Homo sapiens: one gene and its partners. The protein of the gene in region 4 interacts with the protein of the main gene of each other region in a pairwise test. Each region holds a gene or a part of one and is shown on either strand. Other genes may lie near its edges.

Region 1 (3,125 bases), on a different chromosome or scaffold from region 4:
AAGACCGAAGGCCCACAGCGGATCAGCGCCAAGATCAGCCAGATCCCCCCGGCCAGTGCAATGGACATTGAATTTCAGCAGTCAGTGTCCAAGTCCCAGGTCAAACCTGATTCTGTCACAGCATCGCAGCCTCCATCCAAAGGCCCTCAAGCTCCTGCAGGCTATGCGAACGTGGCCACCCATTCCACGTTGGTACTGACCGCCCAGACATATAATGCCTCTCCTGTGATTTCGTCTGTGAAGGCCGATAGGCCATCCTTGGAGAAGCCCGAGCCCATTCACCTCTCGGTGTCCACGCCTGTCACCCAGGGAGGCACAGTGAAGGTTCTCACCCAGGGGATCAACACACCCCCTGTGCTGGTTCACAACCAGCTGGTCCTCACCCCAAGCATTGTCACCACAAACAAGAAGCTTGCTGACCCCGTCACCCTTAAAATCGAGACCAAGGTCCTTCAGCCGGCCAACCTGGGGTCCACGCTCACGCCCCACCACCCTCCTGCTCTGCCCAGCAAACTGCCTACAGAAGTCAACCATGTCCCCTCGGGGCCCAGCATCCCAGCAGATCGAACTGTCTCCCATTTGGCAGCTGCAAAGCTAGATGCTCATTCTCCTCGACCAAGTGGACCCGGGCCATCCTCATTCCCAAGGGCAAGCCACCCCAGCAGTACTGCATCTACGGCGCTCTCCACCAACGCCACAGTCATGCTGGCTGCAGGCATCCCAGTGCCCCAGTTCATCTCCAGCATCCACCCAGAGCAGTCTGTCATCATGCCACCCCACAGCATCACCCAGACTGTGTCCCTGAGCCACCTCTCCCAGGGCGAGGTGAGAATGAACACTCCCACGCTGCCCAGTATCACCTACAGCATCCGGCCAGAAGCGCTTCACTCTCCTCGGGCTCCGCTGCAGCCCCAGCAAATAGAGGTCAGGGCCCCACAGCGTGCCAGCACCCCGCAGCCAGCCCCAGCTGGTGTGCCTGCACTGGCCTCCCAGCACCCTCCCGAGGAGGAAGTGCATTATCACCTTCCTGTCGCTCGAGCCACAGCCCCTGTGCAGTCAGAGGTACTAGTCATGCAGTCTGAGTACCGACTGCACCCCTATACTGTGCCACGGGATGTGAGGATCATGGTGCATCCACATGTGACGGCAGTCAGCGAGCAGCCCAGGGCCGCGGATGGGGTGGTGAAGGTGCCACCAGCCAGCAAGGCCCCTCAGCAGCCAGGGAAGGAAGCTGCCAAGACACCAGATGCCAAAGCTGCCCCCACCCCCACCCCTGCCCCCGTCCCTGTCCCTGTCCCCCTTCCTGCCCCTGCTCCTGCCCCTCATGGTGAGGCCCGTATCCTCACAGTTACCCCCAGTAACCAACTCCAGGGGCTGCCTCTGACCCCTCCTGTGGTGGTGACCCATGGGGTGCAGATTGTGCACTCCAGCGGGGAGCTGTTTCAAGAGTACCGGTACGGCGACATCCGCACCTACCACCCCCCGGCCCAGCTCACACACACTCAGTTTCCCGCCGCTTCCTCTGTTGGCCTGCCTTCCCGGACCAAGACAGCTGCTCAGGTGAGCCAGCCAGGTATCTCCCCACTGTCTGTTGGGCATGTGCTTGTGGGGCTCAGCAGGCTTTTAAGCCAAGATGTGTGAAAGAAATCAGGGGCCAGGTGTGGTGGCTTATGCCTGTAATCCCAGCACTGTGGGAGGCCCAGATGGGAGGACTGCTTAAGCCCGGGAGTTCGAGACCAGCCTGGGCAACATGGCAAAACCCCATCTCGTACAAAAAAAAAAAATTACAAAAATTAGCCAGGTGTGGTGGCACACACCTGTGGTTTCAGCTACCTGGGAGGCTGAGGTGGGAAAATTGCTTGAGCCCTGGAGGCAGAGGTTGCATTGAACCAAGGTCGTGCCACTAGGCTCCAGTGACAGAGCGAGACCCAGTCTCAAAAAAAAAAAAAGCCGGGCATAGTGGCTCACGCCTGTAATCCCAACACTTTGGGAGGCCAGGGCTGGCAGATCACTTGAGGTCAGGAGTTCAAGACCAGCTTGGCCAACATGGTGAAACTCTGTCCCTACTTAAAGAAAAAGAAATCCGCCTTTTGGTAAAGATAGTGGTTGAGTACAAGTGAACTGGTCAGCTAGTCCCTAAAGATGTTGATCTTTTCATGAGTTTAAAGAGCTTTCTTAGTTCTGAGATGAAAGTATTAGATCACATCATGGGGAGTTCTGCATATGGGGAGGGAGCTCTTGCTGGGTAGCATCAGCAGGAGGCAGGTAATAGGGGATCTCTCCTTACCTGGAACCCCGAAAGCAGCTCCGTTGATTCAGGCTCCTTCTGTGGGCCTGACTTAACGGGAGATGCCACATCTTATCCTTTCCCTGTGGCCCTTTGGGTCATTTGTTGGTCTCAGGGGCTTGTGCACAACAGACTGACTCTGTCCCTTTGCCTTCCTTCCCTACACCAGGGCCCTCCTCCTGAAGGTGAGCCCCTGCAGCCTCCTCAGCCTGTGCAGTCCACACAGCCTGCCCAGCCTGCACCACCCTGCCCGCCCTCCCAGCTCGGTCAGCCCGGCCAGCCACCAAGCAGCAAGATGCCTCAAGTGTCCCAGGAGGCAAAGGGGACCCAGACGGGAGTAGAGCAGCCTCGCCTCCCAGCTGGACCTGCAAACAGGCCACCTGAGCCTCACACCCAGGTTCAGAGGGCACAAGCAGAAACAGGCCCGACTTCCTTCCCCTCCCCTGTGTCTGTCTCCATGAAGCCTGACCTTCCAGTCTCTCTTCCCACTCAGACTGCCCCAAAACAGCCGTTGTTTGTCCCAACAACCTCTGGCCCCAGCACCCCACCAGGACTGGTTCTGCCACACACTGAATTCCAGCCAGCCCCCAAACAAGATTCCTCTCCACACCTGACTTCCCAGAGACCCGTGGATATGGTTCAACTTCTGAAGGTAAGCATGAGCAGGGGCTGCCCTTCCTGGCCCCCAAGTTTTATGCCATGTCAAATGTCCTAAGATTCCCTAGTTAACAGACCCACAAGCTACAGCCTCTGGCTGTGTCCAGCATGGCTCAGCGAGGGGCCATGAGCTCACTTCCTGTTTGTTTCCCTGTGAGCAGAAGTACCCCATCGTGTGGCA
Region 2 (3,500 bases), on a different chromosome or scaffold from region 4:
CTCCACAAACAAGAAACACCCTCCCTTCCACCTGAGCCGCTCCCACAAGGTCACCGTCTTCATGCAGAGTTTCCAACAGACCGAGTTGGCCGCCACAGACAAGGCCTTGTGCAGGACCGCCCTCCAGACCTCCTTACAGATGGCAACTGGAGACCAGGGCCTCAAAACCACATTTCCACACTGGCTGAAGCTGCTGCAACTGCTGCCTGCTTCCAAAATCAGCCTTCAGGCGGCACAGACCCCGCCACAGGAAGCCAGAGTCTCCATGCCCACACACCACTGCTGGAACTTGAACCCTACCTTGGCCAAGTCATCCGGCAAACTCTGGCCTGCAGGCTCTGTTCACCCCACGGTGGGGCAGACCAGAGACTTCCAGGGGCCTCTCTGAACCCCGTGTTTTGGGTGCCCCAAGGTTTTCATTCTGAATACAAAACCAACCGAGGCAAAGTGAGAAAACAACTGTTTCTTTTTTTCTTTTTCTTTTTTTTTTTTTTTTTTTTTGAGACGGAGACTCGTTCTGTCACCCAGGCTGGAGTGCAGTGGCGCCATCTCGGCTCACTGCAAGCTCCGCCTCCCGGGTTCACGCTATTGTCCTGCCTCAGCCTCCTAAGTAGCTGGGACTACACACGCCCACCACCACACCAGGCTAATTTTTTGCATTTTTTTTTTTAGTAGAGATGGGGTTTCACCGTGTTAGCCAGGATGGTCTCCATCTTCTGACCTCATGATCTGCCCATCTCGGCCTCCCAGAGTGCTGGGATTACAGGCAGGAGCCACCGCGCCCAGCTGACAACTGTTTCCTACATCTGAAAATGTCACTGTCAAATCAGAGCACTTGAGTAGAAGTTTATCATGGAGTGGAGGGACCCCCAACACACATGCCTGACGCCTGGGCTCACACAGGGGGTCCTACTGCTGTGCCTGAGTCACCAAAGACCTGCAGCTCTTCACTGGAGAAAAGGAATGTCTTGTGTTTGTTTAAGAGTCACAGAGTATTTTTCTTAGGAAGGGAACACACAGTTATTTCAGACCGTGCCCCGCTTTGTTGTCAGTTTCCAAACAGGAACACACCAGTCTCTGGTCTTCCTGGCCTGGAGGGGAGAAAACCAGCCTCAGGCACTTGCAGGACACCCCCGCTCCATGACGTCAGCACGTTCCAGGCACCCACAGGTGCCTTGGGCTTCAGCCCCTCCTAGGAAATGAGGAGGTGCCCAGACCCCACTGCCAGGAAGGAGCAGCCTGACTGAAAACACAGATCGCCACGTGGCCATGGGTCAGCTTGTGTGTGTTCTCACACCCACCAGAAATAAGCCAAGTTTCTGGGCTGGGTGCGGTGGCTCATGCCTGTAATCCCAGCACATTGGGAGGCCGAGATGGTAGCTACCTGAGGTCAGGAGTTTGAGACTACCTGGACAACATGGGGAACCCAGGAGGTGGAGGTTGCAGTGAGTTGAGATCACTCCACTGCACTCCAGTTTGGGCAACAGAGAAAGACTCTGTCAAAAAGGAAGGGGAGGGGAGGGGAGAGGAGGGGAGGGGAGGGCAGGGCAGGGGAGGGCAGGGGAGGGCAGGGGAGGGGAGGGGAGGAGAGGGCAGGGGAGGGCAGGGGAGGGGAGGGCAGGGGAGGGGAGGGCAGGGGAGGGGAGGGCAGGGGAGGGGGTTTCCAAGTTTCTTATGTTTTTACTGAAGTCCTTCACAAGTTTTCTGTTTGCTGCCATTCTAACAATAACTGTGCTTTCAGGCCGGGTGTGGTGGCTCACACCTATAATCCTTATAATCCCAGCACTTTGGGAGGTCAAGGCGGGCACCTGAGGTCAGGAGTTTGAGGCCAGCCTGGACAACATGGTGACCTGTCTCTACTAAAAATACAAAAATTAGCCTGGCATGGTGGCACACGCCTGTAATCCCAGCTACTCAGGAGGCTGAGGCACAAGAATGGCTTGAACCCAGGAGGCGGAGGTTGCAATGAGCCGAGATTGCACCACTGCACTCCAGTCTAGGTGACAGAGCAAGACCCCGTCTCAAAAACAAAACAAACAAATAACCACTCTGCTTTCAGGTATATGGAGATGATGTCCCAGGTATGTGACCAAGGCTGAAAAGACTACAAGTAACAGGTGCCAATGGTCCCAGGGAAAATCCCTTTCTGGAGACTGGACCCACCCTGGCATCTGCCACTTGGAAACAAGGTTGCCTGCCCTGGTTGACCAGATGTCCCCAGATCGCCGAAGGCCCCACACATAAAACATAAAATAAGCTGATAAAACATGATCACAAAAGGGCTCTGAAGGTGGCACAGACACTATTTGAAATGCAACTGGCTTTCAGCAGTTTTCTAAGTAGACAGCAGTCAGGCGTGGGAGACTGCACCATAAATGCTACGAGAACAGGATATGGGGGAGGGAAACGCCTTGCTTCTTTCAGCTGGCCCTGCAGCTATAGGATAAGGAGCACAGGCAGGGCCGGGCCTCGGGCAGAGGCTGAACTGTGGCCGGACAGCAGCCTGCTGGGAGTCCCTGCCCAACGCAGGCCACAAGCCCATCTGACAGGTGTGGCTCTTCACCTGGCCTTCCGAGGCAGCTTCTACCTCAGCTGTAATTTCTCCCACCTCCAGCACAGCCCGAAGGCCTCTGAGAGCAGAGCGAGCCAGTGCGTCCCTCCCCAGCTCACAGAGCAGACGTTCACACAGCGGGCTGAACCCCGGGAGAGCCTCGGGGAAGCCGGAGGCCCCCAGCGTGGCACCACCCGCCCTGGGCTGTGCCCCTCGGAGCAGCTTACCAGAACATGTCCTGAGATGGATGCCGCGTTCGCCACAGACGTGGTGAAGACATTGTCTGCAGCAGCCCCCACGTTGGCCACTGTCACTGTGGTCACCTCTGCAACAGAAGGAGCCTCATTTAACAAGCAACAAAAGCCAGAATGGACAAAGCGAACAGCCTCGCTCAGGTGCTTCAAACAAAGTGACTCCCCCTCAGGTGTGTGCCCTTGTAACCAGGAAGATCTTAACACTTCCATGAACACGCTCGACCTACATTTCTATTCCATTGTCTAAGTCATTCGGCTCTTCCAGGAAAAAGAGAGGAAATCTATTCTTCCCCAGTAAAGCCTTTTACGTGCAGTAAAAAATGCATACAACAAACCCGCCACCCCAGCCAGCCCCAGCTCTATCAAACCACCACGGGGCTTCTATCTCCTTCTGCGGCACAGCTGTGGGTTCTGCTGGTCAGGTGTGCCCTATGCCTACGAGGAGCTCTCGGCCTCCCCGCAGGTGAGGACACCTCCTGGACCCACTCTTGTAGCTCCATTCCTGCCTCTCCTCCACCGCAGGGGTCAGGCCACCATCGTCAGGTGACCTCGGCCCCATGCTCACAGCCATTGCCCTTGGTCTCTGACCCCTTCCTCCTAAAAAGTACATCTAACCTGCCTATGTCCCTTGGTGCCACCCCACCGCACCCCCTACAACATGGAACTCAGCCCCCTGGCATGCAGACAGGCCCTTC
Region 3 (4,119 bases), on a different chromosome or scaffold from region 4:
AGAATCAGCTTGCCTGGCTCTAAAATAAATCCTGCATAGGCAATTCTAATGGACATCCTGGCTAAGTATCACAGTTTAAATCAAATATTATTAACAATTCTAATAACACCTCCCATTCGTACTCTACCTACTTTTCAAAGCAGTTTCACTCTTTCACCCACCTGGCCTCCTTGGGGTTAGAAAGGACAGGAGTTAGACAATTCCGCACACGTACAAAGGAGCTTCAGACTGCTTCCAGCCCAGCCCCAGATTCCAGCCAGACCTTCCCTTGACGGCCCAGGCCTCGCCCTGAGGGCACCTCGGGTTCCAGCTACCTCCGGGCCCCCAGGACCACCGCTTCCCCCGCCCCACGCCAACCCCTAGATCTGCCTCGCCCCCGCCTGAAGAGTCGGATCTGAACCAGGCCGGCACCACGGAGATTCCCCTGCGGGCCGCCCGACGCCTGGTAGGTGGTGGGCTCTTCCCGGCTGCCCCGAACACTTTCCTCTGTCCAGCTCTTCCCGTGCCCCGGGGCTGGGGAAAGCGTCCGGCAGCCCCGCCGCTCCCTGGCCCCGTCCCAGGAGCCACCCCACCGTAGGGCTCCAGCCAGGGTCCAGGCGTGCAGGCGGCAGAAGGTGGACGGGACGCGCCAGCCCCAGGCCTCTCCTCCCGCTCTCCAGCCGTTTTTCTGGGGAGAAACACCTGCACCCAGCTGTCCCTCCCTCCTACGTGAGTCCTCCTGGAAACCAGGTTGGAGGAAGAAAGACGTCCTGTGGACAGGACGGGGTGGGGGCATGGCCCTGGGGACTCCTCGTGACAGAGGGTCCTGCGGCAAGAGGGTCTCCCGGGCCGCGGAGGCCCTGCCTCACCTGCAGTCCTCCGGGAGCCCGCGGCCGAGCAGAGCGGACACTAGCTGACCCCGAGCAGGGGAGCGACGGGAGGGCGGAGACGGCAGATGCACGGGTGGGGGCTGCGGCCCCGCCCAGGCTGCGCGGTTTCCCGAAACCAGCTGCGGCCCGGGGGCCCGGCAAAGGGGGTTCCGCCCGGAGGAGCGGACCGGGCGGGAGAAGACCGAGCCCCCGCGCGCCCCCTGCGCTCCCACTCGCGCACACTTGCACGCCGGCCCTGGCCGGGCGGGGCTGGAGGCGAGAACGACCCCACGGGCTTTCCCAGGGCCGTCCGCCCGCGGACCCTCCCAGCTCCCCAGAGCCCAGTGACCCTCGCGCAGCAGGAGAACCCCAGACGGACCCCAGGCCCTGCAGCCTGTCATGAACCCGAGGGGCTGAAGTTCAGCCCCACCCCCGCCTCCCCTCCCCGCCTCCCCCTCCAACTCTCAACCCACTTCTCCAGCCAGCGCCCCAGCCCTCCCGCCGCCCGCTCGCAGGTCCCGAGGAGCGCAGGTGAGGCGGCACCCCACTCCCGGCGGCCCCCGGGCCTCCTTCCGCACGCACCCCGAGCTGCCTCCGCACAGTTGGAGGAGCGTAGGAGGGACCCCCACCCAGGGATGACACTCCAGGAAGGGGACTGCAGAGGAAGCCAGGTGCGGCCCCGGCTTTTGACCTACCTCCGCACCGCAGCGCGGTCCTTCACGGGGCAGGGGCGGCGTGAACCCGTCGGGCGTGAGCAGCAGTCGGTGGAGCGGGAGGTCGGCGGTGGCGGGGATGGGGGTATCCGGAGCGCAGCCGGGGCGCAGCTGCTGGCACAGGAGCTCCACAGGCAGCCAAGGACTCGGTCCTGTCCCAGAGCCTGCGGACTGTGGAGGGGAGGCCGCAGGAAGAGCCCGGGAGGAGGGGGTGAGGGGTCGAGGTGTGGGGCGCTGCTTGACCCAGACGCCAGGGCCCTGGGAGGAGGATGAGGGGGACAGAGCAGATCTTGGGCGAAAGGGGAGGTTCCCGCAGGCTCTGTAGTCGCCGCAGTTCCAGCATGGTCAGCACCCCCTCTGCTACACACATTCCCCTCGTGAGGGGCCAGGGGTGCGGCCCTGTGACCAGGACAGCCATTCATTGGGTGACTTTGAGCCACCACTGGCCCCTGACCTCCCCAACTCCAATGAAATCTGCGAAAATCTTCTGACAGCCGTTCCTCTCTGGTGCTCCCTTCCTCATAGACTGTGTCCCTGACAATGGGAACAGCCGACAGTGATGAGATGGCCCCGGAGGCCCCACAGCACACCCACATCGATGTGCACATCCACCAGGAGTCTGCCCTGGCCAAGCTCCTGCTCACCTGCTGCTCTGCGCTGCGGCCCCGGGCCACCCAGGCCAGGGGCAGCAGCCGGCTGCTGGTGGCCTCGTGGGTGAGTGTGACGGCCTGCCTCGTCGGGCGGCGGGAGGAACTCCCCACCTCCAGCCGCAGCAGCACTCTCTGCCAGCCTCCCTCTGAACAGGACACCGAGCCAGTTATGTCTTCTTACTTAGCGATGTGATTCTCTGGCCTTCTCAGTAAGAGCCTGGGGAGGGGAGGCTCTGGGCTGAAGGGGTGTGGAGGAGCCACTGACCATGCAGAGTCCCAATCAGTGGAGCCCTGAGTCCATCCTTTCCTCTGGGCCAAACTCAGGATGGGCCGGCTCTCCTCTCCTTCCTTTCCCTTCTCTTTTCTCCTCCTCCTGCCTCTTCTTCTTTCTCCTTCTCCTCCTCTTTCTTCTCCTTTTCTCTTCTCTTCTCTTCTCTTCTCTTCTTTCTTTCTCTCTCTCTCTACCTCTCCCTCTCTTTTTGGGGTTTTAGCGGTTAATCCCTGCAGTGGCAGGTCCACCTAGGAGCCGGGATCTTGGGTCCTTTGTCTTTCAGGTGATGCAGATCGTGCTGGGGATCTTGAGTGCAGTCCTAGGAGGATTTTTCTACATCCGCGACTACACCCTCCTCGTCACCTCGGGAGCTGCCATCTGGACAGGGGCTGTGGTGAGTAGAGCAGGACAGTGCTTGACTGCCTGTGAGAGGGGTGGGGCATTGCTCTCCTGATTGCCTTCCTCCAACATGGCGCCACAGAATGCTGGCAGTCGGAGAGATCTGATTATCTAGGACCATTCCCTGCCTGTTCAGATGAGCAAACAGCTGAGGGCGGTGGTGGCATGTCCTATTCACACTGTCTGCTCTCCCATACCCTTCCCAGTGCTGTTCCCACCAGGCTGGCTGCCTCTCCCTGCCTTCAACAGTTAATGTCAACTAAGGATCTAAGGACCTGCTCATCTCCAGATACTTGCATTGAGATGGGGAAGGCAGAGCGTTCCAGATAGTATGTGGTCCCCCAGGAAGCATCACCCCCTGGTTATTCTCATTGTCCTCCACAGGCCCTGTACACAATGGAAACCCAGGAATTGTTGTCAACAGATGGGTGTGTGCAGTTTGCACAGGAGCTGGGTAGGCTGGTCATGGTACCTACACTCTCAGAATAGCACTAAAACACTCATATTTACTGACAGAAGCCGAGAGTAATTACCTTCACCCAGCCTGTGGCAAAATACCCAGCTTAATTACAGAATTAGCCAAACAGGATTCAGGTCCACCTGTCCACTGGGACATACTAGATTTCCTGTTCTTCAAGCCCAGCTGAGTGGATTATTGGGCACTGTTAGGACAGGCTTCTAGACCTAACAGTGCCCACTCTGTATAGACTCACCCTTCATTGAGATCTTCTCCAGCACCCCATGACTTTTATCCACAGGATCCCACCATCCCTAGAACTTTCATAAAGCACTTGGTGTTGTTTAAAAAGGAAGGTTTAGAAGGGAAGAGGGGCTCACACCTGGCTTGACCACAAGCTCTTAGGTGTCACTAAAGCAGGGCCTTTTGCAGCCTCAGGAGTTGGATCCAGGCTCCACCCTCTCAGCAATTATCTTACCATGGATAATAAAGCTTAGCATGAAACCTCCCGCCCAAGCTGTGTGCTGGGGAAGGGCCTGCATGGAGGCTCTCTCGTGGGAGAGGAGTTGCATTTCCTGTACTAAGCCTGCTCCTGGCTCAATCTCTCCCCAGGCTGTGCTGGCTGGAGCTGCTGCCTTCATTTACGAGAAACGGGGTGGTACATACTGGGTAAGTTCAGGGAAGGGCATGGGAGGGGACCAGGTTCAGGCTGGAGGTCACCCCAATCTCCTGCCCTGTTGCAGGCTTCTCTGGGCCTTGCCCTTTTTTCCCCCGACTGGAC
Region 4 (3,500 bases):
ATCTTGTCTGAAGATGACTACTTATGTTTTTAAAAGTGCTCTTGAAATTGCATTTTTTTGCTTTACAGCTATATTGAGGTATAAGTTACTTATAAAAGTTACCCATTTTAATGGCTGGGTGTGGTGGCCCACGACTGTAATCCCAGCACTTTGGGAAGCGGAGGCAGGCGGATCACCTGAGGTCAGGAGTTCAAGACCAGCCTGGCCAACATGGCAAAACCCCATCTCTACTAAAAATGCAAAAATTAGCTGGGCGTGGTGGCTCACACCTGTAATCCCAGCTACTTGGGAGGCTGAGGCAGAATTGTTTGAACCCGGGAGGCGGAGGTTGCAGTGAGCCAAGATTGTGCCACTGCACTCCAGCCTGGGTGACAGAGTGAGACTCCATCTCAAAAAAACAAGTCACCCATTTTAATTAAGTGTAGTGTTCCATGAGTTTTAGTAAATGTATAGAATCATGCATCCACTATAATAGTCAAATTTTAGAATATTTCTATCACTCCCAAAAAATTCCCTTGTACCCATTTATGATCACCCCTGGCCCTAGACAACAATTAATAATCTGCTGCTGCTATTTTCTTTTCTAAGGTTTCATTTAAGTGAAATAAGACAATATATAGTCCTTTGTTGGATCTATCAGTGGGTGCATGTGTGTGTGTCTTGCTTTTTTGCTATAAATAATGCTATTCTGAACATTCACGTAAACTCTTTGGACATATGTTTTCATTTCTCTTGGATAGTTGCCTAGGAAAGAAATTGCTGAGTTGAGGCTCAAGCCTGTAATCCCAGCACTTTGGGAGGCCAAGGCAGGAGGATCACTTGAGTCCAGGAGTTTGAGACCAGCCTAGGCAACATAGCAAGACCTCATCTCTACAAAAAATAAAAATAAGTAAATAATAAAATAAAAAATTAGCCAGGCATGGTGGTGCACACCTTTAGTCTCAGCTACTTAGGAGGCTGAGATGGGAGGATCACTTGGGCCTGGGAGGTCAAGGCTTCAGTGAGCCAACATCCTACCACTGCACTTCAGCCTGGGTGACAGAGCAAGATCCTGTCTCTAAAAGAAGAGTTTGCTGGGTTGTATGTTAAATATATGTTTAAATTTTTAAAGAAACTGCCAAACTATTTTCTAAAGTGGCTGTACCATTTTGCATTACTACCGACAATGTATGAGGGTTGCTCCCCATCATTGCCAATGCTTACTTTATCAGTGATGTCTTAGTGTGTGGTTTTGCTTTGCATTTCTCTAATGACTACTAATGTTGAGCAAATTTCATGTACTCTAACTCTTTGTATATTTTCTTTTGTGAAGTATCATTTGCTCATATTTTATTGGGTTTGTCTTCACATTATTGACTTTTAAGAGTTCTTCTTATATTCTGGATATAGGTACTTTATTAGGTATATGTTTTGCAAATATTTTTCTCCCAATCTATGACTTGCCTTTTCTTCCCCCGACCCCTTTTTTTATTTTGGGTCTTTCTCTGTTACTCAGTGCCACTGAGGCTGGAGCGCAGTGGTATACTCATGGCTCACTTCAGCCTTCAACTCCTGGGCTCAAGCAATTCAATCACCCTAGCCTCCTGAGTAGCTGGGACTACGGGTGTGCGTCACCATACTTGGCTGTTTTTTATTGTTTTTTGTAGAGACTGAGTGGTTGCCCAGGCTGATCTCAAACTCCTGGTCCCAAGCGATCCTCCTGCTTCACCCTCCCAAAGCACTAGGATTACAGCACCCAGCCCCTTTTCATTTTCTTAAAGATATCTTTGATAAACAAAAGTTTTCAATTTTCATGAAGTCCAATGTATCTGTTTTTTTTTTTTTACAATTTATACTTCTCTGTCCTATCAAAAAAGTCTTCTAGCATTGAATTTTATGTTTTATACTTACATAAATACACTAGCTTTCTGTTTATTGCAGTCAAGCTGTATTAGTCGACAGGACCATTTACATTTCAGGACAGATAGGCATGGACCCTTCAAGTGGACAGCTTGTGTCAGGAGGGGTAGCAGAAGAAGCTAAACAAGTAAGTTATTTTCCACATTTAAGGTTCCCTTTTCTACTACCTTTTTAATGTTGAAGAGCATTAAGAATCCACTTGCCTGATTTGTTTTATAGAGATTAACAGATAAATGTTTTTTAAACTACTTACTGCTTGATTTAACATAGTTTTTGATCTAAGAGTTGGAAATTTGATGGATCATGAATCATCTAACAACCAAAAGAGAGATTCCACCTCCTTAACACTAAGGTGACCTTAAACCTGAATTATTGACGTCAGATGACATGTTGCCACTTCCACATGGATTGGGAAATTTTCTTCTCAGGGCCACTGACCTGCCCCTCTTCAAAAAAAAAAAAAAATTACCACCACAGAAGTAAAAAGTCAACATTTTTAAAAATAAGAATGGGGAATATAATTTTAATCCAATAAATATAATTAAACCATAATTTAGGCCAGGCACGATGTGGCTCACACCTGTAATCCTAGCACTTTGGGAGGCCGAGGCTGGCAGATCACTTGAGGTCAGGAGTTCAAGACTAGCCTAGACAACATGGTGAAACCCCATCTCTACTAAAAATACAAAAATTAGTTGGGGGAGGCCAGGCACAATGGCTCACACCTGTAATCCCAGCACTTTGGGAGGCCGAGGCGGGCAGATCACCTGAGGTCAGGAGTTCAAGACCAGCCTGGCCAACATGGTGAAACCCCGTCTCTACTGAAAATACAAAAATTAGCCAGGTGTGGTGGCATGTGCCTGTAGTCCCAGCTACTCGGGAGGCTAAGGCATGAGAATCGTTTGAACCCGGAAGGCGGAGGTTGCAGTGAGCTGAGATTGTGCCACTCCACTCTAGCCTGGGCAACAGAGCAAGAACCCTGTCTCAAAAAAAAAATAGAAAAAAAAAGTAACCCAGTCAGGTGGCACATGCCTGTAGTCCCAGTTACTCAGGAGGCTGATGCAGAAGAATCGCTTAAACCTGGGAGGTGGAAGTTGCAGGAAGCCAAGATCGTGCCACTGCACTCCTGCCTGGGACACAGAGCAAGACACTGTCTCAAAAAATAAAATAAAATAAAACAATAAACTATAATTTACTGCATTTACTGAGTCATATAATGCTGAAAGTTTGTTTTGTTTTGTTTTGTTTCTTGAGACAGCCTTGCTCTGTCGCCCAGGCTGGAGTGCAGTGTCGTGATCTCAGCTCACTGCAACCTCTGTCTTCCAGGTTCAAGCAATTCTCTTGCCTCAGCCTCCCAAGTAACTGGGACTACAGGCACACGCCACCACACCTGGCTTATTTTTTGTATTTTTAGTAGAGACGGGGTTTTACCGTGCTAGCCAGGATGGTCTCGATCTCCTGACCTCATGATCCACCCACCTCAGCCTCCCAAAGTGCTGAGATTACAGGCATGAGCCTCCACACCCGGCCTAGCTGAAAGATTTTTAAAAACCTAAATATCCACTCATAAAGAACTGGTTGAATAAATTATGCTAGATCAA

What was found. Proteins that work in one complex are often made in the same cells at the same time.
Region 1: the proteins of RIDA (region 4) and SPEN interact in a two-hybrid assay, tested with the Homo sapiens proteins (one large-scale study listed by BioGRID and IntAct).
Region 2: the proteins of RIDA (region 4) and DEAF1 interact in a two-hybrid assay, tested with the Homo sapiens proteins (one large-scale study listed by BioGRID and IntAct).
Region 3: the proteins of RIDA (region 4) and TMEM176A interact in a two-hybrid assay, tested with the Homo sapiens proteins (one large-scale study listed by BioGRID and IntAct).

The regions. Positions count from the first base shown.
Region 1 is NC_000001.11:15,934,707-15,937,831, forward strand, and holds part of SPEN (msx2-interacting protein), read left to right. Parts: coding exon 1-1,560; intron 1,561-2,456; coding exon 2,457-2,939; intron 2,940-3,105; coding exon 3,106-3,125. UniProt on the Homo sapiens protein: May serve as a nuclear matrix platform that organizes and integrates transcriptional responses. In osteoblasts, supports transcription activation: synergizes with RUNX2 to enhance FGFR2-mediated activation of the osteocalcin FGF-responsive element (OCFRE).
Region 2 is NC_000011.10:688,723-692,222, forward strand, and holds part of DEAF1 (deformed epidermal autoregulatory factor 1 homolog), read right to left. Parts: intron 2,877-3,500; coding exon 2,779-2,876; intron 1-2,778. UniProt on the Homo sapiens protein: Transcription factor that binds to sequence with multiple copies of 5'-TTC[CG]G-3' present in its own promoter and that of the HNRPA2B1 gene. Down-regulates transcription of these genes.
Region 3 is NC_000007.14:150,799,450-150,803,568, forward strand, and holds the start of TMEM176A (transmembrane protein 176A), read left to right. Parts: upstream 1-1,319; 5' UTR 1,320-1,379; exon of another isoform or gene 1,380-1,483; coding exon of another isoform or gene 1,484-1,519; intron 1,520-1,543; exon of another isoform or gene 1,544-1,911; intron 1,912-2,086; coding exon of another isoform or gene 2,087-2,101; coding exon 2,102-2,275; intron 2,276-2,765; coding exon 2,766-2,876; intron 2,877-3,265; coding exon of another isoform or gene 3,266-3,370; exon of another isoform or gene 3,371-3,950; coding exon 3,951-4,007; intron 4,008-4,119. Other genes in the region: TMEM176B (transmembrane protein 176B), read right to left, coding at 162-169, 573-775.
Region 4 is NC_000008.11:98,107,172-98,110,671, reverse strand, and holds part of RIDA (2-iminobutanoate/2-iminopropanoate deaminase), read left to right. Parts: intron 1-1,920; coding exon 1,921-2,026; intron 2,027-3,500. UniProt on the Homo sapiens protein: Catalyzes the hydrolytic deamination of enamine/imine intermediates that form during the course of normal metabolism. May facilitate the release of ammonia from these potentially toxic reactive metabolites, reducing their impact on cellular components.